7 linked regions of the Homo sapiens genome follow. The protein of the gene in region 4 purifies or fractionates together with the protein of the main gene of each other region. This does not show direct contact. Each region holds a gene or a part of one and is shown on either strand. Other genes may lie near its edges.

What was found.
Region 1: the proteins of PCDHGB1 (region 4) and FAM171A2 purify together in Homo sapiens (co-immunoprecipitation; 3 studies listed by BioGRID and IntAct, with this or other methods). This does not show direct contact.
Region 2: the proteins of PCDHGB1 (region 4) and TMTC2 purify together in Homo sapiens (affinity purification with mass spectrometry; 2 studies listed by BioGRID and IntAct, with this or other methods). This does not show direct contact.
Region 3: the proteins of PCDHGB1 (region 4) and ATP2B2 purify together in Homo sapiens (affinity purification with mass spectrometry; 2 studies listed by BioGRID and IntAct, with this or other methods). This does not show direct contact.
Region 5: the proteins of PCDHGB1 (region 4) and PTPRK purify together in Homo sapiens (affinity purification with mass spectrometry; 2 studies listed by BioGRID and IntAct, with this or other methods). This does not show direct contact.
Region 6: the proteins of PCDHGB1 (region 4) and CDON purify together in Homo sapiens (affinity purification with mass spectrometry; 2 studies listed by BioGRID and IntAct, with this or other methods). This does not show direct contact.
Region 7: the proteins of PCDHGB1 (region 4) and OPA3 purify together in Homo sapiens (co-immunoprecipitation; 3 studies listed by BioGRID and IntAct, with this or other methods). This does not show direct contact.

The regions. Positions count from the first base shown.
Region 1 is NC_000017.11:44,353,854-44,357,353, forward strand, and holds part of FAM171A2 (protein FAM171A2 precursor), read right to left. Parts: intron 2,736-3,500; coding exon 2,577-2,735; intron 2,500-2,576; coding exon 2,320-2,499; intron 2,222-2,319; coding exon 2,105-2,221; intron 1,989-2,104; coding exon 1,862-1,988; intron 1,339-1,861; coding exon 1-1,338.
Region 2 is NC_000012.12:83,130,906-83,133,135, reverse strand, and holds part of TMTC2 (protein O-mannosyl-transferase TMTC2 isoform 1 precursor), read right to left. Parts: intron 927-2,230; coding exon 747-926; 3' UTR 1-746. UniProt on the Homo sapiens protein: Transfers mannosyl residues to the hydroxyl group of serine or threonine residues.
Region 3 is NC_000003.12:10,495,587-10,499,086, forward strand, and holds part of ATP2B2 (plasma membrane calcium-transporting ATPase 2), read right to left. Parts: intron 1-3,500. UniProt on the Homo sapiens protein: ATP-driven Ca(2+) ion pump involved in the maintenance of basal intracellular Ca(2+) levels in specialized cells of cerebellar circuit and vestibular and cochlear systems.
Region 4 is NC_000005.10:141,348,940-141,352,898, reverse strand, and holds the start of PCDHGB1 (protocadherin gamma-B1 isoform 1 precursor), read right to left. Parts: upstream 2,801-3,959; 5' UTR 2,639-2,800; coding exon 230-2,638; coding exon of another isoform or gene 206-229; intron 1-205. UniProt on the Homo sapiens protein: Potential calcium-dependent cell-adhesion protein. May be involved in the establishment and maintenance of specific neuronal connections in the brain.
Region 5 is NC_000006.12:127,975,100-127,978,599, forward strand, and holds part of PTPRK (receptor-type tyrosine-protein phosphatase kappa isoform b precursor), read right to left. Parts: intron 1,956-3,500; coding exon 1,824-1,955; intron 1,684-1,823; coding exon 1,558-1,683; intron 1-1,557. UniProt on the Homo sapiens protein: Regulation of processes involving cell contact and adhesion such as growth control, tumor invasion, and metastasis. Negative regulator of EGFR signaling pathway. Forms complexes with beta-catenin and gamma-catenin/plakoglobin.
Region 6 is NC_000011.10:126,017,867-126,021,366, reverse strand, and holds part of CDON (cell adhesion molecule-related/down-regulated by oncogenes isoform 2 precursor), read left to right. Parts: coding exon 1-119; intron 120-1,601; coding exon 1,602-1,748; intron 1,749-2,893; coding exon 2,894-3,037; intron 3,038-3,500. UniProt on the Homo sapiens protein: Component of a cell-surface receptor complex that mediates cell-cell interactions between muscle precursor cells. Promotes differentiation of myogenic cells.
Region 7 is NC_000019.10:45,546,803-45,550,302, reverse strand, and holds part of OPA3 (optic atrophy 3 protein), read left to right. Parts: 3' UTR 1-3,500. UniProt on the Homo sapiens protein: May play some role in mitochondrial processes.

The sequences.
Region 1 (3,500 bases), on a different chromosome or scaffold from region 4:
CGCCGCAGCTCGCTGGCGCTGCTGCGGGAGCTGTCCCCGCGGCTGCGGCCCCGCCCCCGGGGTACCGTGGCCGCCCGGCCCTCGGGCGCCGCCACCTCGTCCAGCAGCGGCGTCAGCGAGTTGTCCTCCGGAGAGCAGAGGCCCGTGCGGCTCTCGCTGCTGCTGGGCTCCGTGTCCTCGCTGAGCGCCAGGCGCGGGGGCGCGGGCGGCGGCGGCGGCGCGGCAGGCGGGGCGCGCTCCCGCTCCTCCCTCGCGGGCCGGCGGCGCGCGGGCCGCGCCTCGTGGACATCTACGCCCGAGTCCAGGCTGGCGTCGGTGCTGCGTGCCCCGCCGCCCGCCTGCAGGTCGATGTAAGAGTGGCGCACTTGCGAGTTGGAGCGCCCGTCGAGGGACACGAACCAGGCGCGCGGGTGCGGCTTCACGCCCAGTTCCAGCAGCTTCTTCTCGGTCAGGGCCTGCAGCTCCCCGTTGAGCTGCGCCATGGTGGACTCGTTGAATAGCACAGGGATGGTGACTGAGCCACTGACGGGCGCCGCGCGCCCGGCCCCCCAGCCCTCGCCGCCGCCCCCGCCGCCCTCGCCCCCCGGGCCCGAGTGGCCCGGCATCTGCGGGCGCTGGGGGTCGGGCTGGGGAAAAGCGCGCGCCGGGCCGGGTGCCGTGCCCTCCGGCGGGGCCGGCTCGTCGCCCACGCCGGCGGCGCCCGCCTCGCCGCCGAGGCGCACGTAGTGCGCGGGGATCACCAGGGTGGGCATGACGTTGCGGTAGACGTTGTCCTTGAGGTGGTCGATGGAGCCGCAGAAGATGAGCTGCCCCGCCTGGCCCAGCGACGGCGGCCGCGCCAGCTGGTCCACCGACTGCGACAGCAGGAAGTCGGGGGTCTTGCCCTCGGCCGCCCCCTTGTGGCCCAGGTAGTGGTCGAAGGGCGGCGGCGGCGAGGGCGGCTCGTGCAGGAAGGCCGCAGCCCCCGAGGGCCCCCGCCGGTGCTCCTCTAGGCCGGGCTCCAGCCCGCCGGGGCCCTCGGCCGAGCGAGCGCCCTTGAGCCCGGCGCTCTCGCCCCCGCGGGCACCCGAAGGCTCGGCGGCCGGGCGGCTGGCAGAGCGCGGCTTGGTGCGGAAGAAGTCATCCCGGGAGGAGGCCAAGTCCCGGGAGCTGGAGAAGGCCGAGTGGAGGGGGCCTGGAGGCGGAGCCTCGGGGTCCCCCGACGGGGCGGGTTCCAGGGGTCCCCCACAGATGAGGTGGAGCTGGGACATCGAGGTGGCCTGGTCTCGTTTGTTACCGTCAGAGGGCCCCGAGAGCTGCAGCTTGCGGTGCTGTTGCCTCGGCTTCAGGCAGCGCCTCCTGGAAGGGAGGGAGCAGAAGGGGCCGCTCAGGAAAGGGTGAGGGCCAAAGTAGGCCCCGAACCCCCTTAGATGCAAGACAAGAGACGAATATAGTGGAAGAGGTGGGGAGAATGCCTGGGGCGCTCAGGAGAGATGGCGGGGAGCCGCCGTGTCCGTTTGGCGATCCCCTCAGGGTCAACTCTGCACTCCTCTGCATGTAGGATGTGCTGCGAGAACCAGGGATGAGCATCTAAGCTGTCTATGGGTGTGTCCGGCCTGGAGTCCTCTGGGAGAGAGAGCTGGGCTGGTAGGGGCAGTGGCAGATCTCTCTGGAGGGGCCGGGCTGCAAGTCCTTAAGCCCTGCCTCCCCTCCCACCTCCCCGCTGTCTTCAACCACCAGCACCAGCCCTTCAGGTCTTAGCATGTTTGCAGGAAGTCTTTTCCTGTCTGCCCCTTGAGGACCAGAAGTGGATTTTATGCATCTTTGGGGCCCCAGGGCCCGGTACAAGTGCAGGGGAGGGTGAGGGAAGCCCCGTGCTCACCGGCAGTAGTAGATGAGCAGACACAGCAGGATAAGCACCAGCAGGGCCAGGGCTGCCAGGATGGTGAGCAAGAAGATGGTGTGGTAGGTGCCGATGTCCTGGATGCCCGACGTGATGGTGACCAGCCCTGTGCCAGGCGAGGGCTTAGCGTTCAGGTGTAGACACCCTTCCTGCCTTTCAGAAGTCTGCTCTCCCAGCTCCCCTCCTCCGCGGCCTCTACGCCCACTGCCCCACTACTCTTACCAGCCGTGGGGGAGGCCATGGCGGCCACCCAGTACCCCAGCTGGGGGGAGACGAAGGTCCAGTAGAGCTGCCGGCCTTCCTTCCGGATTACACCAGTGCCATTGCGCACCCACAGCCCTGGGAGAGGCAGGGGTTTTGTCACACTTGAGTCGCTCCCACTCAAGTCCCACTTTCTTCTCTCAACTCAAGCACCTGCAGCCCCCTGAGGCACTTACCACTCTTGGGGTCAAATCTCCAGGCTGGAATGCTGGTGCCCACGGTGAGGGCACGAGTCTCGGAGGGCACGGGCAGGGACAGGTGAATGGGGCCTGAGAGCGGCACCTCTGTCCCATTACCTGTCAGCAGGTGCACGCTCACAGCAGTCAGGGGCATCAGCTCCAGCCAGGAGCCATTGCCTGAGGGAAGAGGGTACAGGGCTGAGGGCTGATCCTGAGCCTGGGGAGACCCCATCCGTGCTGGGCACCCAGCCTACCTGAGCTGGAGGCCTCAGTGCCCAGGAAGGCAGGGAAAGCCCGCATTTCCTGCTGGGTGCTGGCAGGCGTAAGTGACGCCCAGAGCTGGCTGTAGGTGGAGCTGACAGGCAGGCGGGCAGCCCGGCGCTGGAACTGCACCAAGGGCTGGGAGCGGGCACCTGGAGGGAAAGAGGGGCTGCAGTGGCTTGACCATGGACAGGGATCCCCAGGGACCAGAGCAGAAACCCATTATCTAAGGAAAAGGGGGACATGAGGTCAGGCCACTTTGGAAGGCCAGGGAGGGTGATGCCTTGGGGAGAAAGCTGGGCAGTCATGGAATGTTAACCTGGAAGGGACATGGACCTGAAATCTCTGTGTGACCCTCAGCAATTTACTTGTTTTAGTAGAAAGTTTCCTTATAGAACCTATAAAATGTTGCGATCCAGATCCTCAAACAGTATTGTCTACTATGTGGCAGGCACCAGGTTAGACACTGGGGGCCCAAAGATGAACGTCTGCTGTGATGGGAATGTTTTCTAGGTGTGCTGCCCATTATGGTACCCACTGGACACACGTGGCTGTTAAGCATTTGAAATGTGGCTAGTGTGACTGAGGAACTGGATTTTTAATTTTTAAAAATGTAATGATTTTTTTCTAGGTGGGTGCAGTGGCTCATGCCTATAATCCCAGCACTTTGGGAAGCCAAGGTGGGTGGATCACCTGAGGTCAGGAGTTGGAGACCAGCCTGACCAACATGGAGAAACCCTGACTCTCTTAAAAATACAAAATTAGCTGGGTGTGGTGGTGCATTCCTGTAATCCCAGCTGCTCGTGAGGCTGAGGCAGGAGAATCACTTGAAACTGGGAGGGGGAGGTTGCGGTGAGCTGAGATTGTGCCATTGCACTCCTGTCTGGGCATCAAGAGCGAAACTCCATCTCAAAAGA
Region 2 (2,230 bases), on a different chromosome or scaffold from region 4:
TTTAAAAAATGCCTGCCTGACACATATAAGGCCTCCCCAGTCCCTCATACAACTCGAGTGTGAAGTATGGTTAGCTCTACTCTCCATATCCTTTTCAGAACATAAAAAGCAAATGATGTCCAAAAGAATGAAGCCTCTGACATCCAAATCATAAAACATTATGTGCACTGGTCAAGAAACATAGCAGATTCTGACAGATCTTGACACAGTATTAAAAAAAGTGTTCTAAGCTTCAGAAATTGATAAGCAGGCTGTCCCAAACAGGGAAGACAGCAGCGTTAGGACAACCGGCGGCTCACTGGGACTCACACTACGTGTTTATCACTCCCTCGTAACACTTAACCCTAATTGTTTGCCATGCCTGAATGGACACTCTGACTTCCTCTCACAGTGTTTAAGGAACAACATAATTTTGAAATTAGCTTTCAGAAAATGAACAAAATCTGTGACTTACACACCCACCCCTCCCTTTTTAAGAATGCCAAAAGGTTCTGTTTTAAGTGCTCTGGTTTACAGTCTATGGGTAACAATGACATCCTCCAGGAGGTTTCCGGCTTTCCCCTTTTTGGTGTTAACAGCTGTGCCTACAGCAAAGTGGATTCTTCCAGAAGCGGTAGTGACCTCAATGACCTCTGCCCTGGTCTTGAAGTCTAACACCAGCTCTTGTCATAGCACTGCTGGGAAGTTCTGTCTGCTAAGGAAGCCAGCTTTTAAAAATGGAGGAGGATGGGCTTCTGCCTCCTGTGTCAGGTCTTAGAAGTCTTTAAGCCTTGTTTTTCCATGATGTTCCACAGTTTGCGGAGATTGGACTGTGTGATGACATCGTCTGGCTTGAGCTGCAGGGCCCGCAGGTAGTTGGCCTCGGCCTTCTGGAGTCTGCCATTGAGGTGCAGAATGGCTCCCAGGTTCATCAAAGCAGCCGGATACTGCAACAAGAGAAAGAAGGAAAACAATTAGGAGGCCATTTCAAGCTTTCCTTCATGGAAAACAAAAATCTTCATCCACTTATGCAAATAATTCCCTTATGTCTAGAGGCATTTTGTGAAAGCAATTTAGCAATTTATACAAACAGATAAAGATAACTAGGAAGATGGAAAGTTTTCAAACACCTGCTGTGTACTTTGTGCTTTAAAAAGGACAGGCTTCTAGAGAAATAGTATTTTTTCTTTAATGAGAAAGCATAGGTAACATATGAAGATCTAAAAGCCTAATCAGATGGTACTATTTGAGAAAAAAACCTTTACAAGTGATACAATTTCAGATGGAAAGAATTTATAAAAATTTCAATTCAATGACAAGAAATAAAAAATAAGTGGGTAAAGTTGACAAATCCATATCTATTCATTCTTTGTTTTCTCTTCTTAGCAATATCCCAGGCTTTTAACACAAAACAATTAAAATAAACTATGAAATTTTACGGATGTTTTTGGGTAAAAATCCTGAAAAAAATTAAAATGCAACCACTAAAGCCCTTCCCAAACCTGAGTTGTTCAACAAGGCAAAGTCTTTATTTTTAAAAGCCAAACACTGTTTAACCTGTAATGATGAATGTTTACCATAGAGTGAAGTAAAAAATCCAAATAGATAAAATATGGCAGAGAAAAATGAAACCTTTCTAAGAAAAATTTTATATTACTTATTAAAAAGTAGTTAAGTAATTCTCATAGAATTTTCAATAATGCGTAATAATTGCAATACAAAGCTATCACATGTGGAAAAAAGGTTAAAAGTGTTTTTTACATGGCATGAGTTATGTTGCACCAGTTTAATACAAAGGTTTTCATCCCCAAATTCTCAGACATTAGTTAACAACAGCAAAAGTCCCTCCCAAAGGAAAATATATTTTGCTTGCTCTTTATAAATAAGGCTGTTCTGCTCCTGTCCCTGGAACATTCTGGCTAACAGAAAGCAGATAATATTTTGGCAGTTACACAAATGCATATTTCAAATATCAGATAAAATTAAAGTGTTTATGCTATGATTACACTTTCATTTTGCAGATCGTGTCAACTATTAATTGTCCTTCAATTCTGTGTTAAAGTCCGAAATCACAATTATTTTTAAGATTTGGTGTTTTCACAAGACATGCACTTTTCAGCTGAATTCATGTGACTCTACTCTTTACCGTAAAATCAATTATTTCTGAACCAAAAGCAATGCTACAGGGGAGAGTAGAATAGCTAGAATAAATTGACTTGGGGGATTTTGGATTTTTAAGAGATCTGGGTTT
Region 3 (3,500 bases), on a different chromosome or scaffold from region 4:
GGGAAGCTGATGTCTCCACTCAGCTCAGAATTTCCTTCCCCTGAGGTCATGGGGCAGACTCAGGCCTCTGAGAGGGCAGAGAAGTGCCTAGAAACAGCCCTGGGTCCCAGTGCCAGGTCTCGCTTAATTTTATTGCTACTCCCTGAGTGCAGGAGTGGCCCAGGCCACATACTCTTCACCACACTGACCCCATTTTGTAGATAAGGAAACTGAGGCTCTGGAAGCTCTAAATACTGTGGTGGTGAGGCTGAGTCTTGGTCCTGGAAGTTATTCATGGCCTAGCCCCCAGGCAGGGCACCCGCAGTCGTATACCACCTTCTACCTGGGGCTGCCTCCGCCTCCCAGCAGGAGTTGTTTCTGGAGCTGATTCATCTCTGAGCTCAGCAAGGAGCCCGACAAACAGCCTGGTCCACACCAAATACTTAGCTAATACTGGTTTTATTGATTTGCATTCTATGCCCTCTTCAGGATGCTCTGAGCTCAGAAATCTGAAATTGGCTGGGGGTGGGATGGGGAGAAGGGCTTCATTTTAATCTGAAGTGAGTCATGTAAGTTGATAAATTTAGAAGTGGCCTAAAGAGCTCTTAATCTGCTGCCTTCAGATAGTTGCTAGGAAGAGACTGGCACCCAGCAACCTTTGCATCCCAAATCCACATAACAGAGTGGACACTGTTGGTGCCCACCCTAGTCCTCCTTACCGGTCTGCAGCTTCCACACCCCAGCTGCTGGGAGCTAGAGCTCCCGGCTGCCCCTTCTTTGCAGGCTTGCCCTGGGAAGAACAGGAGCTCCTGCCCGGGCAATTGCACACAGCATCCCACTCAGAAGGCAGCCGTGGCCAATAACTATCTGATATGGGGTATGAAAGGCCAGCTTTTTTGCTTCAAGGCAGAGCCAAACCTGGGGCGCAGTTCATGCCCCACATCCCCCAAGGGATCAGCTGAGGCCACACGCTTGTTTATCTCTTTCTCTCCCTACCTTGTTTCCTTTCAGCCCCTTTCTCCTGAGCGCTGTCTCATGCTTGCTCCTAGTGAGTCCAACCCAAGATCCACACACATTGCACTCCACACGCAGACACTAGCTCCACCCCTCCAACCCCGCCCCTTCCCCCGTGACCTGGACATCAGCAATGTCCAGGCAGCTTCGAATTTTAGACATTTAAAGTCTCAGGGGGCCCATCTGGCTCCAAAAGGCTTGTTTCAAAGATGGGAAACTGATGCTCAGAAAGAGACTGTGACTTGTCCAAGGTCACTTGAAGTGCTTGTCATGGCTGGCTGCACCCAGGTCTTTGTCCTCCCCCCAACTCCAATCCACTTTGTGGCCCTAGCCTGTCTGGTGGCTGGACCAACGGGCCAGCCACGGCTTTTGCTGTCTCCAGGAGGGAATTTTGCTGTGTCAACTCTGCAGAAGCCACTTGGAGGCCAGGAGAGTGCTGGCTGGTGGGCTTGCAGGATGGTTGGCAGGCTCTGCTGACCTTGGGCAGCTGTGGGCAGGGTGGGCATCCCAGTTAGGCCCCTTCCACTGTTTGTGGTGGTCAGGCAGAAAATTGAGGGAAGACAGAAACGACTTCTAATGAGGGCCCTAATTACCCTGTGGATCCCTGAAGCACTGGTGATGTATCTGCTGGTGGCTTCTTCTAGAAACCCTCCTCTCCATGGCAAGAACTGCTTTCTCCATAAGAGAAAGAGTCCTGAACCAACATGGGCAAAGAGGCAGCATTGGGCTGGTGCCTGGACATTGGGCTGTGGTTCCAGTCTGCTGGGAGCTGGCTGTGTGATCCTGGGCAAACCAGCATGCCTCTTGGCCCTTGGTTTTCTCAGCTATAAAGCAAGTGCAGCCTCAACTGCTATTATTTTATTGAGCCTAGTGTTTATTTTAGTATCATTTATTGAACTAGAAGAGACTCATTAAAGTTCATCAAATAATAATTGCTTACACTTCTGCCAAGGGCTGTCCTAAGCACTTTAATTTTACTTAATCCTCACAACAATCCTATGAATTGGACACTTTTGTTATCCCCATTTTACAGATGGTGGGACTAAGGCACAGAGAAATTAAGAAACTTGTGCTGGGTCACACAGCATGGAAATGGTGGAGCAGGAATTAGAATCCCAGAGTCTATGCTTTAAATTCCTCCTTGTACTACGGTCTTTGCTGTTTGTTTTGCACGGCCATTTATTAAGCACCTACTGCATATGGGGACTCTGCTGGTCACGTAATACACACAAAAGTTTGCCGACTTCTCACAGCTGCTCCGGCAAGCAGGTGTTCTTTTGCTGATTGTTTCAGAGTGGACACAAAGGACCCAGTGAGGGACTCACCGCAACTGAGCTGGGGAGGCAGGTGGCAATCCTGGCTTCTTCCCACCAGCCTGGTGGCTCTGTTCTGAGCCCCTTATAAAACTGATCTTATTTATCATATTTTCTTGACTCTAACCTGTATCACTACTTTACGTATATTTAAGAAATAAAAGGCATGGCTGGTTCCACTGTGGTGTAACACCAGTTGTCAGGCACAACCTGGCTTCAGAAATGTCAAAATGTATATCTTGGAATCCGCACAGTTCAGTCTCCGACACAACGGCCTGATGAGGCAGGCAGTGTTGTCATCTCCATTTGACAGTGGAGGGAACGGAGGCTTGGAGATTAAGGACATGCAGCTGGTCAGCGGCCAGGCATTGGATGTGACCCCAAGCAGCCTGGGCCCAGATGTTGTCCTCAACTACTGCGCTACATCAACGCTAAGTCAGGCCCACGTAGGATGGCGTGCCCTGCCCATGGGCACAGATCAAAAAACTTCAGAAGGATCAGTGAGCTGGAGGCCAGCACCCTCTGCTCCGGATGAGCCTGGGGGCCTCACTCAGCGTGGATGCCTCAGGCATGCAGGAGGCACCCCAAATGGCTGCCACAGCATTCCCCGCCCACTGCCTCCACAGCTCCCTTGGGCCTGCAAGGCAGGTGTTTGACAGAGCTGGGCTAGAATGAGTTCATCCAGATGACGCCCCCATGGCTCCCACAAAATGGTCCCGGGGCAGCCAGACATGGCCCGGTAGAGTAGCCCAGCCGGCACAGGAAAGGCACCACTTTATAGGAAACTGCCTTCAGAGGCAGCACAGAAGCTTGCAGAGACCTGCTTTCTTCCTTCAAAGCTACATGGTGCTTGGACCCCAAACGGTGTCATCCATTCACTGCTTCTCCCATAGGCTCCACCAATCCCATATGCTCCACTATGGCACGACTGCTCCCAATTTTCCCAAATCAAATCCACCCTCCTTGGACTAGGATGTGCCCCTTCTGGGGACATCTTTAAGATGCCCACAAGCAGGGCAGAAGCTCAACATATTTCGAATGCCTGGCATGATGAGGGTTCCATTTGAGACATTACCTACCCATCATCTCGTGGCACAATCTTGTGAGGCAGGTTTTTCCCACTCCACTTTGCATATCAGGATGTCAAGCTCAGAGAAGCAAAGCTACCTGCCCAAGGTCACACAGTAGTAAACA
Region 4 (3,959 bases):
CTCCTGTCTCAGCTTCCTGAGTAACTGGGACTACAGGCGCGTGCCACCACACCCAACTAATTTTTGTAATTTTAGTAGACCGGGTTTTACCATCTTGGCTATGCTGGTCTCAAACTCCTGACCTCAAGTGATCCACCTGCCTCAGCCTGGTTAAGTGCTGGGATTACAGGCTTGAGCCACCGCGCCCGGCCGCCATATATAAAATTTAACTAGATTTGCAGAAACTCACGTGCGAAGACAAAGAAGGGTCATAAGCGATTTTGTGATCTTCATTACTGGCACATACAACCATAGAAGGATCATCACACAGCAGATCCTGAGGGGGAGCCATTTCCGGTGTCAGGTTGAGAGAATTAAACTCTGTCTTTGCAGAATGAGAGGCAATACATAGATTGTAGGAATAGGGCAAAGTCCCCTCGCTGTGGTTGGGAGGAACCCCGGGCCCAGACTTGGAGCAGAGACCGGTTTGAAAGCAGCCCTCAGTGTCGAGGCTGGAGGAACGTCGCAGGCGCAGGGCGATCGCTAGAATCACCGCGAGGAGAAAGAGCACTGAGATCAAGGCCAAGGCCACAACCAGGTAAAACTGCAGTTCCGTCTGGGGGTCAGAGGGCTCAGGGCGGTCGCTGAGGTCTGGCAATACCTCTTGCAGGCTATCCGCGAAGATTAGGTGCAGCGTGGCGGTGGCGGAGAGTGGCGGCTGTCCTCCATCACGCACAGCGACCAGCAGGCGCTGGCGGGCCGCGTCCCTGTCGCCCAAGGCACGCGCTGTGCGCACCTCACCCGTGCGCAACCCCAGGCTGAAGAGCCCGGGCTCGCTGGCCTGCAGCACGTGGTAGGACAGCCAAGCGTTGTGTCCTGAGTCTGCGTCCACCGCCACCACCTTGGTCACCAGGTAGCCGGGCTCTGCGGCGCGTGGCACCATATCGAAGAGGGCGGAGCCATCAGGCCCCAGCGCGGGGTACAGCACCCGTGGCGCATTGTCATTGAGGTCGCCCACCAACACGCGCAGGCTCACGTTGGCGCTGAGCGCGGGGGAGCCCTGGTCCCTGGCCTGCAGTGTGAGCTCGAAGGCGCGCAGCTGCTCGTGGTCGAAGGCGCGCTGCGCGAACACCACCCCGCTCTGCGGGCTCACGGACACGTAGGACAACAGCTCCCGCGGCTCCAGGTCACTGGCCAGAATAGAGTAGGAGACTCTGCCGTTGGGTCCCAAATCCGGGTCGGAGGCGCTTACTTGTGCAATGGAGGCGCCAGGTGGGTTGTTCTCAGACACGTGGACCACATAGGAGGCCTGATGGAAAACAGGTGCATTGTCGTTGATGTCGGAGATGTGCAGGGTGATGCTTGTCCTGGAGGAAAGGGCTGGTTTGCCCTTGTCGGTGGCTATGATTGTGACGTTGTAGTCTGCTGTCTGCTCCCGGTTTAGGGCTCCAGCAATCACCAGCTTGTAATAATTCTTCGAGGTGGATTCTAATTTGAAAGGAACTTCTTCCTGAGTATAGCATGTCACCATGCCATTTTGCCCAGAATCCTTGTCTCGCACTTTTATGAGGGCTATTACAGTTCCAAGGTCTGAATCCTCTGGAATCTGGTTAGAGAAGGACATGAATGTCACCTCTGGGGCATTGTCATTCTCGTCAACAATTTCTATTTGAACATTACAGTGAGCTGTGTGTACTCCTCCATCCTTAGCTTCCACACTCAACACATATCTACTTGTCTCTTCAAAATCCAATGTGCCATTGGTTGTGATGTCGCCAGTATTTGGATTGAGATTGAAGAGGCTGGTACTTATTGGGGAATTGAGGAAGGCATAGGTGATCTCTGCATTAATGCCCTCATCCTGGTCTGTGGCCATCACCCGCAGCACGGAGGTTCCCCACGGTACGTTTTCTTGGAGGCTAACCCTGTATACCTCCTGGCTAAACACGGGAGCATTATCATTGGCATCCGTAACTCGGATCCAGATATGGGTGGTGCCGCTTAGAGGCGGGTCCCCGCCATCCATGGCAGTCAGGATTAAGCGATGAGAGCTCTGATGTTCCCTGTCTAGAGGTTTTTCCAGCAGTAATACCGGATATTTACTTCCATCAGGACTTTCCTTCGTTGACAGAGAGAAGTATTGATTGGGGTTGATGGTGTATAACTTCAGTGAATTGCCTTCCACATCTGCATCTTGAGCAGAATCCAGAGAGAATTTTACCCCGGGTAAGGCTGACTCACAAATTTCTAAGTCAATGCCTTTTGCAACGAAACGTGGTGCATTGTCATTAATATCTTGGATTACAACAACCACGTGGAAAACATTCATTGGGTTTTCAGCGACCGTTTCGAATTCTAGTGCACACTCAAGTTTCCTTCCGCAAATCTTCTCTCGATCTATCCTACCGTTCACTAACAAATCCCCGCTCTCCAAACTAACGTTGAAATAATCCTCTGCACTAACCCGCAGTTTTCGAGTTGGCAACTCCCGGACACTGAGCCCCAGATCCTTGGCAAGTTTCCCCACCCGTGAGCCGTTGGCTAGCTCCTCTGGAATCGTGTATCGGATCTGCTGGGAGATGGCCCCGCAGAACAAAGACAGCAGGAAGGGAAACAGTACCTGACTTTTCATCATTTCGGCTTCTCTGGCTCTCTGCATTTCAGGAACTCTCCGCGGAGCTTCTTTCCTCTGGGATGTTTTTCAAAAAGAAATGGCAGCACCCTGGACTTCTGTGATTTGAGCTTAGGACTTATTAGTTAGGCGCTCGAGGGTGAACAGGAGCAGCGTCTGTGCTCAGTGCACCGGACAAAGCAGGAAGGCACCCTGCCTGACGCTCCTGCAGAATTGAGAAGCCTTCACTTCCTTTTGGTCGACAGCGGCGCCCAGAGGTTGTCTTGGAAAACTGCACAGGGCCCAGCTTTTTATCCTCAAAGCGCAACCTCTTGAATCTATGTACCCTGTCTTTAATTTGCTGGAGGGAAACACATACTCACATTTTCCCCTTTACATTTCAGTTTTCTAGTTTGTCATCATCAGATAAGGGCCTTCATCATTTCGTATTCTTTTTTCATTTAAAAAATTCACAAGGTACACTGCCATTTTTTTCAGTTTTGGGGGTAAAAAAAAATCTTCAGTGATTTCACTATATTTATAAACTCTGGCATGACTGCTGTATCCAAATAAGTGAATTGATAATTTTTATTTATATTTTTAGTTGACTAAAATACCTACCTTTCTGTAAATTCATTGGAATAAGCTCCCTTATCTAGTATTTTAAATCTCTCCATATATATGTTATCAATTCAGTAATACTTTTCAAAAATAGTTTTTGCAAAAAAGAGGAAATCACAGCCTTACTATTATGTTATTTCTCTTCTTTATAAAATATAGATAATCTTTCCAGTTAAGTAGGACAAAGTCTGATATTTTGTTAAAAGGGCCAATTTAGTGTTGGGGTACACATACATGCTTTTATGAAGTGGAATCTCATATAATGTACATTTGTTTTATGAAACCAGTGCTTCTTTTTTATATGAATGTATATTAAATACTCTAGGCTGGGTGCAGTGACCTGTGATCCCAGCACTTTGGGAGGCCAAGGTGGGAAGAACACATGAGGTCAGGAGTTTGAGACTAGCCTGTCCAACATGGTGCAAGCCATCTCTACTAAAAAAAATAAAAATTATCCAGGCATGGTGGCGGGTACCTGTAACGCCAGCTACTCGGGAGGTTGAGGCAGCAGAATCACTTAACTCAGGAGGCAGAGGTTGCAGTGAGTTGAGATCATGCCACTGAAGTCCATCCTGGGTGACAGAGCAAGACTCTGTCTCAAAAACATTCTCTATAATGCCAATTCTCAGCTCCAGCCGACTTATACCATTAATGAGCAAAACGAGTTTGACTTGACCACTGGTAAATATTGGAGAGGTATTCAGAGTTCTTAGACACCCAATTTTGGAACTTATTCTGTAGTTCCAGG
Region 5 (3,500 bases), on a different chromosome or scaffold from region 4:
ATGTACTAATAAGGACCAGAATACCAAATACAGAGGCAGTTCAATAAGTAAGCAAACAAATAAATAAATATGCTGACAAAAATATAACATTTCAGTTCCTGTTCCTAGAATATTTTTCACATAAACTGCTCAATTAACAGACAAGCCTTACTGTCTTCAGCAGTTCTGTTTTTTTCCAACTCAAATATTACTAGAACCATAATGTAACAGATGTGCAGACATAATGAGATTCCATTTAAATTAACATCTAAGATATGCATGAATATTATGAGATGATTGAAGTTATCCTTTTTTTCTCCACTGAAATGAGCAATAGGAGTCGATATGATTCCATTCCCTGCTCATAGTTATATACATATAGACTTATTAACCAGACACACACGTAGTCATTTTGATATGAGAGACACTGAAACATGATAATCCTAATCACACACTTAAAATACATACCCACAGAGCTGGTGCTTTAAAAAACAGAGTAATGTTTCTCTCTAAAAAGAGCTTAATTTCATGAAAGTTACTAATGTTTTCTTTTCCAATTCTGCTTGTTATTTGGTTACATAATCTAAATTGTTTTTATTAATATCTTTTTTTGGGGGACGAAGTCTCGCTCTATACAGCCTGGGGTGCAGTGGCGTGATCTCAGCTCACTACAACTTCTGCCTCCCGGGTTCAAATGATTCTGCTGCCTCAGCCTCCCCACTAGCTGGGACTACAGGCATGCCACCACCATGTCCAGCTAATTTTTGTATTTTTAGTAGAGATGGGGTTTCACCACGTTGCCAGGCTGGTCTTGAACTCCTGACCTTATGATCTGCCCGCCTTGGCCTCCCAAAGTGCTGGAATTACAGGCATGAGGCACTGTGCCCGGGCTTTATTAGCACTTTTTTTTTTAAGATCTTCCCCACCCACATTGAATTTGTCATGTAGTGGAAAGCAAATGAGGAGTCAGAGAAAGACGATACAGTTACTACTTTGCTGCTGGGAAAAGGCATGGTGGTAGCAGCACTGGTTCTACCTTTAGATCTGCTTAGAGCCATAGGTTGAGACGTTTAGGAAGATGAAATTGCAGGTAGGATAATCAATAATGAACTTGGAACAGTGACATGGAACCCTTCTATAATGGTTGATCCAACATGTCTCTTTCCTCCTGCAGTACAGTTTCTCTGTCATTATTGTTATTGCAATGTTCTTATTTTTTTTATCACATGCCATTTCTGGGCTGGATGTCAATACTAATAAAACATGCAGTCATCCTTAAGATAAGTCTACATACACTCAGAGGCCAGGCCTAGGCTGTCCAACTTGACTGAGCCAGTGCATCTGTATTTCCTGAGAGAATATGCTAGTCTAGTGACTGACCGAAAAACCTAGCTTCCAGCATTTCTGTTTTCCTGTATTTTTATTCGAGTACTAAGGCATAAGATGGTTACTAGCTTTGAGGTGGATGATATAGTGCTTATTAATTGTAGTCTCCCTGTTGTCTGAATAAAATTATACCACATCTTGGTTATGACTGACCTATTCTAGATCAGCTCAAAGGATCCGATAGTGACTTACTCTTGTTAGATTGCATATCCTAAAAATCCGGTTGATCACATCACAGTCCATTGAACAAGACATACATTCCACTTGGATGGGGCCATATCGTAGCATCCCTTCCTCTGGCCAGTACTGAGGGCAGCCCTAAATGATGAACGTTTTGAAAGAAAAAAAAAAAGAGTATTATTTTTTCTAGTTAGGAGAGTATAAAGCAGATTTTAGCAATTCATTACTACTCTATTAAGTTGTATATAAGTACATAAAAGCAATCCATAGCCATTAACCTGGGACAAGTCGACTTCGTTTAACATCACAATGGAGGTACAGCCATAATCATACACTAATCTCCAGAAGTCTTTTACAGTGTTTGGCAGAGGGTATTGTGTGACGATGAAAGCAGCTGGTTGCCTGTAGCTCTGTGAAGAAACAAGGTAGATGGAGAAATATAAAAACTTAAAATGTATGATCGGTTGTACAAACAGATACAATACACTTCAATGTAGGACCAGTAAGATGCAATAGCTTCATATGCAGAAGGAGCCAGAGTGATGATTAAACCATGGAATAGGAGATTCAGACCACTGGAATGAACTGAATTAGTACAGTAATGAATCAATTTGGTGGAAGACTTCAATGCTTCCAAAGCAATTCAAGTCAATAACTGAGTTTTTACTTTACTGAAAGACGTAAATACAGGACAAATACAAAAGAAGAAACTAAAAAGCTTCTGAGGTTAACATCCTCTGTAAGGTTCCTGTTGGGCTATTTCAATTTTCCAAACGTAATCAGTCTCTGAGAGGCTGAAGGCAAAGTAAGCACAAAACCCCTGGTATGTCTATCAATCATCTGGGTATGTGTATAGTGTGTGTGCGTGCAAGTAAAATTGTTTTACTCTTCTCCACTCCAAATAAGAAAAACCACAAGTAGCTCAAACACTTGTGCTTTTACATTATGTGGACACTACCAGGATATTCTGCACATCTTGCAGACAATCCACCTTCCACAGCTTCCTGGGCATTTCTAACATATATCAAAGGTCATAATGACAGTCTCAACCATTTAAGATCCTGAAGCACCAAAGCATAACAGCAATATATTTCCTGTCCCCACATAAGCGGGGAGATAGCTCCTTGTTAACCAAGTCCTCCTTGATTAGAACACAATATATTATCTCTTTCCAAAGGGAGAAGTAGTAAAAACAATATTTATCTGGACTGGACAATTGCCATTTGATTTAAACTAATTATTTGCAATAATAATAATAATAATTAGTAGATTATAGAGTTCCCTAATGCTGACAAAAATTTTCAATGATCTTGTAACTCATTTGTATCATACTACTATTTAAGTCCTTCAAGAATCTTAACATCAGCACAGGAACTGGTTCTTGGACTTCACTGATGCTACCACCATTTGGGAAATGCTACCAACCATGGCATTCAGCGTTGGCTGAAGACTGCAGGATAAATCTGAGTAGATGACAATAATAATTTACCTGGCTACTTCTAAATGACCTCAAAACCTTACCAAGTTACACGTGCAGCTGGGATGAGTGTCTCCTAAGAAAGGCAGGAAGGTTCATGAGTCATATTGTTTGGCTCTGTGTCCCCACCCAAATCTCACCTAGAATTGTAATAATCCCCACATGTCAAGGGCAGGACCAGGTGGAGATAATTGAATCATGCAGGCAGTTTCCCCCATGCTGTTCTCCAGATAGTGAGTGAGTTCTCATGACATCTGGTGGTTTTATAAGGGGCTTCCCCCTTTGCTTGGCACTCCTTCCCCTTCCTGCCACCATGAGAAGAAGGACGGGTTTGCTTCCCCTTCGGCCATAATTGCAGGGATCCTGAGGCCTCCCCAGCCCTGTGGAACTGTGAGTCAATTAAAACTCTTTCCTTTATAAATTACCCAGTCTCAGGTATGTTTTTATTAGCAGTGTGAGAATGAACTAATACAATGAG
Region 6 (3,500 bases), on a different chromosome or scaffold from region 4:
TCATCAGGGGACTCTGACAATTCTTTCTCTCAACTCCTCTCTTTTGGGTTACTACCAGTGCCTTGCCAACAATAGCATCGGTGCCATTGTGAGTGGCCCTGCGACAGTATCTGTGGCAGGTGAGTTTAATTTTGTCCCTGTTAGGTATGGGTTTTCTTGAAATTACTGTTAGTGCTTATATTTCTGAAGAGGGGAAAGACCATGGGCTTTGGTGTAAAGCATATAGGAGTTTTTATCTCAGCCTTGACTCTTGCTGTGAGTATATTGTGGAAGTGCACTTAGACCTCTGTGAGCCTGGCCTCATGCCCTCATCAGTAACAATGATATGGAAATGATTTTTTTAAAGTTACGCAGTTAGGACAGTTTTTTTTTTTTCTTTATAATCTCTGCAGCTTTGCCAGGGAAGGACACTTTTTAAATGTGAATTCTGAACAATTTCTTTGTGAGTGCTTGGAAATCCATGATATCATTAACAACAAAAGCTGTTGTCTACTCTGACAGTTATTTCCTGGAGTCCTTTGTCTTTCTTTCACATCTAATTGTTTTATTTGCCTTGATTACTGAGTGATTTTAATATATTTAATTGAAGCCATGGTTAAAAAGCAGGAAAAAAGTAACTGTAAAGAAAGGAATGTTGAGTATTGAACTTACGGAAAATCTGGAATGCGTGGTTTTTCTTAGTAAGTTGGAGCCATCTGCGTTTCAAACGGTGATGGCTTCCAGTAATGGAAAACGTCTTTGTAAGGGCACCCCTATTTACAGAACAAATCTGGATTCCCCAGGAGTAGTGAGTTTGTCATAACTGAGAAGAGTAAATGTTTTTGTAGAGCTGTGACCCATGGACAGCTGTAAGACACACACTGGAGGGCTGAATTCCTCGTGGCAGGCTGCTGAGTGCTTTGAGCCCTGGAGATAATAAAGAGTCCCCTGCAGGCTCCGTCCGTAGTGAACTGAGACTGAGAGGAATTGAGACCAAGTTAGTAGATTCAGATAATCTAAATAATGATATCCTTCCTTATTTTTTTGATGTCCTAGGTTCATTCCAGAAATCATTTTATTGCAATGTGAATAGCTACAAACAGATTAAAGATCCGTAGGGAAAGTGAGTTTTGATGGGGCACTGGATTGAAAAGGATTTATCTTGACTGAATGGGAATAATTATGCTTTATGGTTCTAGATGTCTTAGGAGCAGTTTATATTTATTCCCTAGAAGCATTGACTTATGAAAAAGGGTGCCGTGACTTCGGTCTTAGCCCTCAACCATGCACATGTGCCCCAGCTGCTTTCTTTTCTTTTTTTTCTTTTTTTTTCTCTTGAGACAGGGTCTCACTCTGTTACCCAGGCTGGAGTGCAGTGGCTCTCCACTGCTTGGCTCATCACAGCCTGAACCTCCTGGGCTCAAGCGATCCTCCCACCTCAGCCTCCTGAGTAGCTTGCCCCAGCTGCTTTCTGAGATGAAAAGATCATGCAGCCCTCTGGACTGGGGTCAGCTGCCACAAAAGGCCGTGCTGCAGATGTTGTTTCTAATTTGTAAATTTCCTTTGGGAAAAAGAATTCAAATTTGCATGTATTTATTTATCTGTTTCCTTATATATTTCAGTTCTTGGTGATTTTGGTTCATCCACAAAGCATGTTATTACAGCAGAAGAAAAAAGTGCTGGTTTCATTGGCTGCAGGGTACCGGAGAGTAACCCCAAAGCTGAGGTGCGCTATAAAATCCGGGGAAAATGGCTGGAACATTCCACAGGTGAGACCTTTTGTGAAAAGCCGGTGGCACACACAGAACAAATGCTCATTAAATAAGCTACTTCTAAGCTCTGTGTGCTAGGGACGAACTGTGGATACAAGAAGGCATGAGTGGAGAGGACTAAAACAAATGGTTACAATATACAAATAATTACGGCCCCATACCCTGAGGCCTCACTCCCTCAGTTCCTTCAGACCCCCATCAGATTTCACTTCCTTGGAAAAGATAGCCCTCATGGTCCTATCTAAAATAATATGCCTGGTGCTCTCTGGCCCCTTTATTTCGTTTTGCTTTTCTTTATAGAATTGATCACACCTGATACTGTGTTATTCATATTTCTGTTAGTTTATTATTGTTTGTCTTTTCCTCTGACCTCCCCACATACCCCTACTGGAATGCCGGCTGCATGCATGCAGGGTTTTTGTCTGCTCTTTTCCTTGCCGTAGCACTTGTGCCTGGCCATTGTTGGCAGAAAGTAGCCCCTTAATATGTATTTGTGGAAAAAAAATGAATGACTAGACAGTGCAGGAACACCATGTGACCAGTGCTGTAGCTAGAGGTTTGCCAAAGTCAAAGCATGTTTCTTGTGCTTTGAGATTCACTACCGTTAACATGCTTCTGCTGGGTTTGGTTTGCTATGCTAGTTCTGTAGACTTTTTTTTCTATTCTGCCTTGACTTTCCCTTTCCTTCATTTAAGAAATTTTCCTTGATTGCTTCTTTACCGCTAATCTCATGTCTAAATGTAACGCAGGCTGGCCGGTGGCTCACGCCTATAATCCCAGCACTTTGGGAAGTTGAGGCAGGAAGATCACTTGAAGCCAGGAGTTCAAGACTAGCCTGGGCAATATAGTGAGACCCCCATCTCTACAAAAAATTTAAAAATTAACTGGGTGTGGTGGCATGCACCTGTAGTCCCAGCTACTTGGGAGGCTTAGGTGGGAGGACCGCTTGAGTCCAGGAGTTCCAGGCTGTAGCGAGCCATGCTTATGCCACTGTACTACAGCCTGGGTGACAGAATGAGACCCCCATCTCTAAAATAAAATAAGATGGAATAGAGCATAATGATCAGCCTTTGTGAGTTTTAGTTGTGCTGTGGTGTCCTTCATAAAGGGAGAGGCCTAACTGCACTCCCTTCCTTCCTCAGAGAATTACTTAATCCTTCCATCAGGAAATCTTCAGATTTTGAATGTATCCTTAGAGGACAAGGGATCATACAAATGTGCAGCTTATAATCCTGTCACACATCAATTAAAAGTTGAACCTATTGGCCGAAAGCTCCTTGTGAGTCGTAAGTATTTGGGAGAATAATGGTAACTGGAAGAGGAAGAGTCCTCATAAAAAGTTGGGCAATGATAGTTCATTTTTTTTTCAAATCCTGTTTGTTTATCATAAAAAGTCTTACCAAAAAAGTAAATACAGGCTAGGTGTGGTGGGTCACCCCTGTGATCTCAGCACTTTGGGAGGCTGAGGCAGGTGGATCACCTGAGGTCAGGAGTTTGAGACCAGCCTGACCAACAGGGTGAAACCCTGTCTCTAATAAAAATACAAAAATTAGCTGGGTGTGGCAGCACATGCCTGTAGTCCCAGCTACTTGAGAGGCTGAGGCAGTAGAATCGCTTGAACGTGGGAGGCAGAGGTTGCAGTGAGCTGAGATTGCGCCACTGCACTCCAGCCTGGGTGACAGAATGTGACTCTGTCTTAAAAAAAAAAGTAAATACATGAATGCATTATAGAAGAGTTCTGTACATGCT
Region 7 (3,500 bases), on a different chromosome or scaffold from region 4:
GGGCTTTCCCCGACTTCCATCCTCACCTCCCTTCTCTAAAGAGGTAAAACTGGCCTGGACCAAGATCTGCCCAGATAGAAAGCCAAGAAACAGGTTCTGAAACTTTTCTTTTCTTCTTTTCTCTTCTTTTTTCTTTTCTTTTCTTTCGGAGACAGTCTAGCTCCGTCACCCTGACGGAGTGCAGTGGTGCAATCTCGGCTCACTGCAACTTCTACCTCCCAGGCTCAACCAATGATCCTGCCTCAGCTTCCGAAGTAGCTGGGATTACATGTGCCCACCACCCACGCCTGGCTAATTTTTGTATTTTAGTGGAGACGGGGTTTCTCCAAGTTGCCCAGGCTGATCTTGAACTCCTGACCTCAGGTAATCCGCCCGCCTCGGCCTCCCAAAGTGCTGGGATTACAGGCGTGAGCCACCGCGCCTGGCCTGAAACAGCATTTCAGTTCCTTCTGGAAGAGGGGGAGAAGCTGGAGCAGAGGGAACTGACCGAGTGGGTCCTGAGTGGGCTGTGTTTAAAACTGGGAGTGACCCAGGCCAGCTCACGCCTGTCATCCCAGCACTTTGAGAGGCCAAGGTGGACTGATCACATGATGTTAGGAGATCGAGACCAGCCTGGCCAACATGGCAAAACCCCGTCTCTACTAAAAATACAAAAATTAGCCGGGCATGTTGGCACATTCCTGAATCCCAGCTACTCGGGAGGCTGAGGCACGAGAATTGCTTGAACCCAGGAGGTGGAGGTTGCAGTGAGCTGAGATCGCGCCACTGCACTCCAGCCTGGGTGACAGAGTGAGACTCAACTCAAAAAAAAAAAACAGAGGTGGGAGTGTGAACACAGGCAGGAGCTCCAATTCCTGACCCCAGCGCTGTCCTGACCCAGATGGAGTGCTGCTCTCACATCTCAGAGACTTCGCACTCAGCCCTGCCCTGCCCTGCCCTGACAGGCAGCCAGTCATCGTGGGCAGCAGGGCCATCTACTTCCCCCACTGCGGCGTCAGGGGTGGCCAGAGTGTGTGGAAGTGGAAAGAACGTCCTCTCAAAATGCAAGAGGCCAGAGGATGGTTCACTGCTCGTGTGTTCTGCTAGCTAGAATTCTGTGTACCTTGTAATTTGGGGAGAGGGGTTAGAATAAATTTGTAAATGAAGCTGATTATCTTCAAGTTGATGCATTCTTTTTTCATATTTAAAAAGTCCTTGGGACTGGGCGCAGTGGCTCACACCTGTAATCCTAGCACTTTGGGAGGCCAGGGTGGGTGGATCACCTGAGGTCAGGAGTTCAAGACCAACCTGATCAACATGGTGAAACCTCGTCTCTACTAAAAATACAAAAATTAGCTGGGCATGGTGGTTGTGCACCTGTAATCCCACCTACTCGGGAGGCTGAGGCAGGAGAATCTCTTGGACCCGGGAGGCGGAGGTTGCAGTGAGCCGAGATCATGCCATTATACTCCAGCCTGGGTGACAGAGCGAGACTTCATCTCTAAATAAATAAATAAATAAATAAATAAATAAGGTCCATGTCAACCTTAGGAAAAATATCCTTTATTTATTCTTTCACTCAAAAAACTCACTGAGGTGGTCCCGCACCGGGACATGGACCCAGTGTCCTTGGTAGGGCGTCTCCCGCAAAAAAAAAAAAAATAAAAAAAATAAAACACAAAACTCACTGAGTTACCCACTCTCTGCCCCACCCTATGCTGGGGTCACAGTGGTGACAGAGACAGCCCCAGCCCTGCCGTCACCGGGTCTTACAGATGCTCACACGTACATTTCTTTTCCAGTGTTCCCTGCCCCACCCCATAGTTGTTTAGGAAGCAGGGGCTGGGCTGAATCCGGAATCCTCCCTCTGGAGTGACTCAGGACTATAAACCCATTCATCCCAGCTCACAAAACCCTGGGAGGTGCCCTGAGGGCTGTGCCCCTCCCATCTCCTGGCAGGCCCTGCTGTCCCTCTTGTTGGTTTCTCTGTAGGGCAGGCCATTGCCTGGAGGGAGGCAAAATGGCTGAGAGCCACCCCAGGAGAAAATGGGCTTTACATAAGCCCCAACCTGATCTATTGGCTCACGGAGCTACTCCTGGGCTGGTCGCTGTGTTGCTGAGTGGCAGGCTTGGGTCCCCCAGTGGCAATGGCTTGTAGCTGGAGTCGGTGTGGACAGAGAGAGGAGAAGCATGGCAACTCTGAGTGTACTGAGGATCAACTGCACCAGGCTCCATTCTAGTAGCTGGGAGCCAGTTGGGAGCAAGCAGAGGCCCTCACTGGAGCTGACATTCTAGTGCCAGAGACCGGCAATAAAGAAGGAAAGAGTGGCCAGGCGTGGTGGCTCACACCTGTAATCTCAGCACTTTGGGAGGCCGAGGCGGGCCAATCCCCTGAGGTCGGGAGTTCGAGACCAGCCTGACCGACATGGAGAAACCCCATCTCTACTAAAAATACAAAATTAGCAGGGCATGGTGGTGCATGCCTGTAATCCCAGCCACTCAGGAGGCTGTGGCAGGAGAATCGCTTGAACCCGGGAGGCGGAGGTTGCGGTGAGCCAATATTGCACCATTGCACTCCAGCCTGGGCAACAAGAACGAGACTCCATCTCAAAAAAAAAAGGAAAAAGCTAATCCAGCATAGGGTGATGAGGACTGAGAGGAATGGAGGCAGGGTAGGAGTTCCGGACTTACGGGCACCGCTGATCTAGACAGGTGGGCAGGGAGGAGGCAGCGCTTCAGATGGAGGGAGATAGGAAGAGGGCTGTGAGTATCTGTGAAAGTCCTAGGACAGATGTGGCCTTGGCCTGTTCCTGGAACAGCAAGAGTTTCTGGCTGTCAGAATAGAGCAGAGGCTCGCTGACCAAGGCCTTTGGGCCAAATCAAGGGGACCCTTGCTTCCTGTCTTTGTAAATAAAGACTTATTGGAACCCAGGCGCTCATTCGTTTGCATATTTTCCACAGTTGCTTTTGCAGTACAGTGACAGAGCTGAGTATTTGCACAGAGATCCTAGGGCTCTCGTACTCTCTGGCCCTTTACAGAAAAAGTTTACCATCCCCTGGAATAGAGTAAGCGAGGGGAGAAGTTAGGTGAGGGGGCCAGGCAAGCAAAGGCTGCCCCTTGCCTTGATTGGCACAACTGTGGAGGTCATCCCAGCTCTGGAGCCCCAACAGGATCACTCAGGCCTCTGCTTCCACCACATCTGGCTTCAGCTTCCCCCTCTGTGGAGTCCTCCCTCCCTCCCTCCTTCCCCATAGGAAATGACCCCAGTGCTCAGCAGTAACCCCCACTGCGCGCAGATCTCAGAACCTCCACCTCAATCTACAGCCACGTGCCACAATAAGAAGCAGAGTTTTAGGCCAGGCGCGGTGGCTCACGCCTGTAATCTCAGTACTTTGGAAGACCAAGGTGGGAGGATCACTTGAAGTCAGGAGTTCGAGACCAGCCTGCCCAACATGGTGAAGCCCCGTCTCTAATAAAAAGAATACAAAAATTAGCCGGGTGTGGTGGTGCACATCTGTAA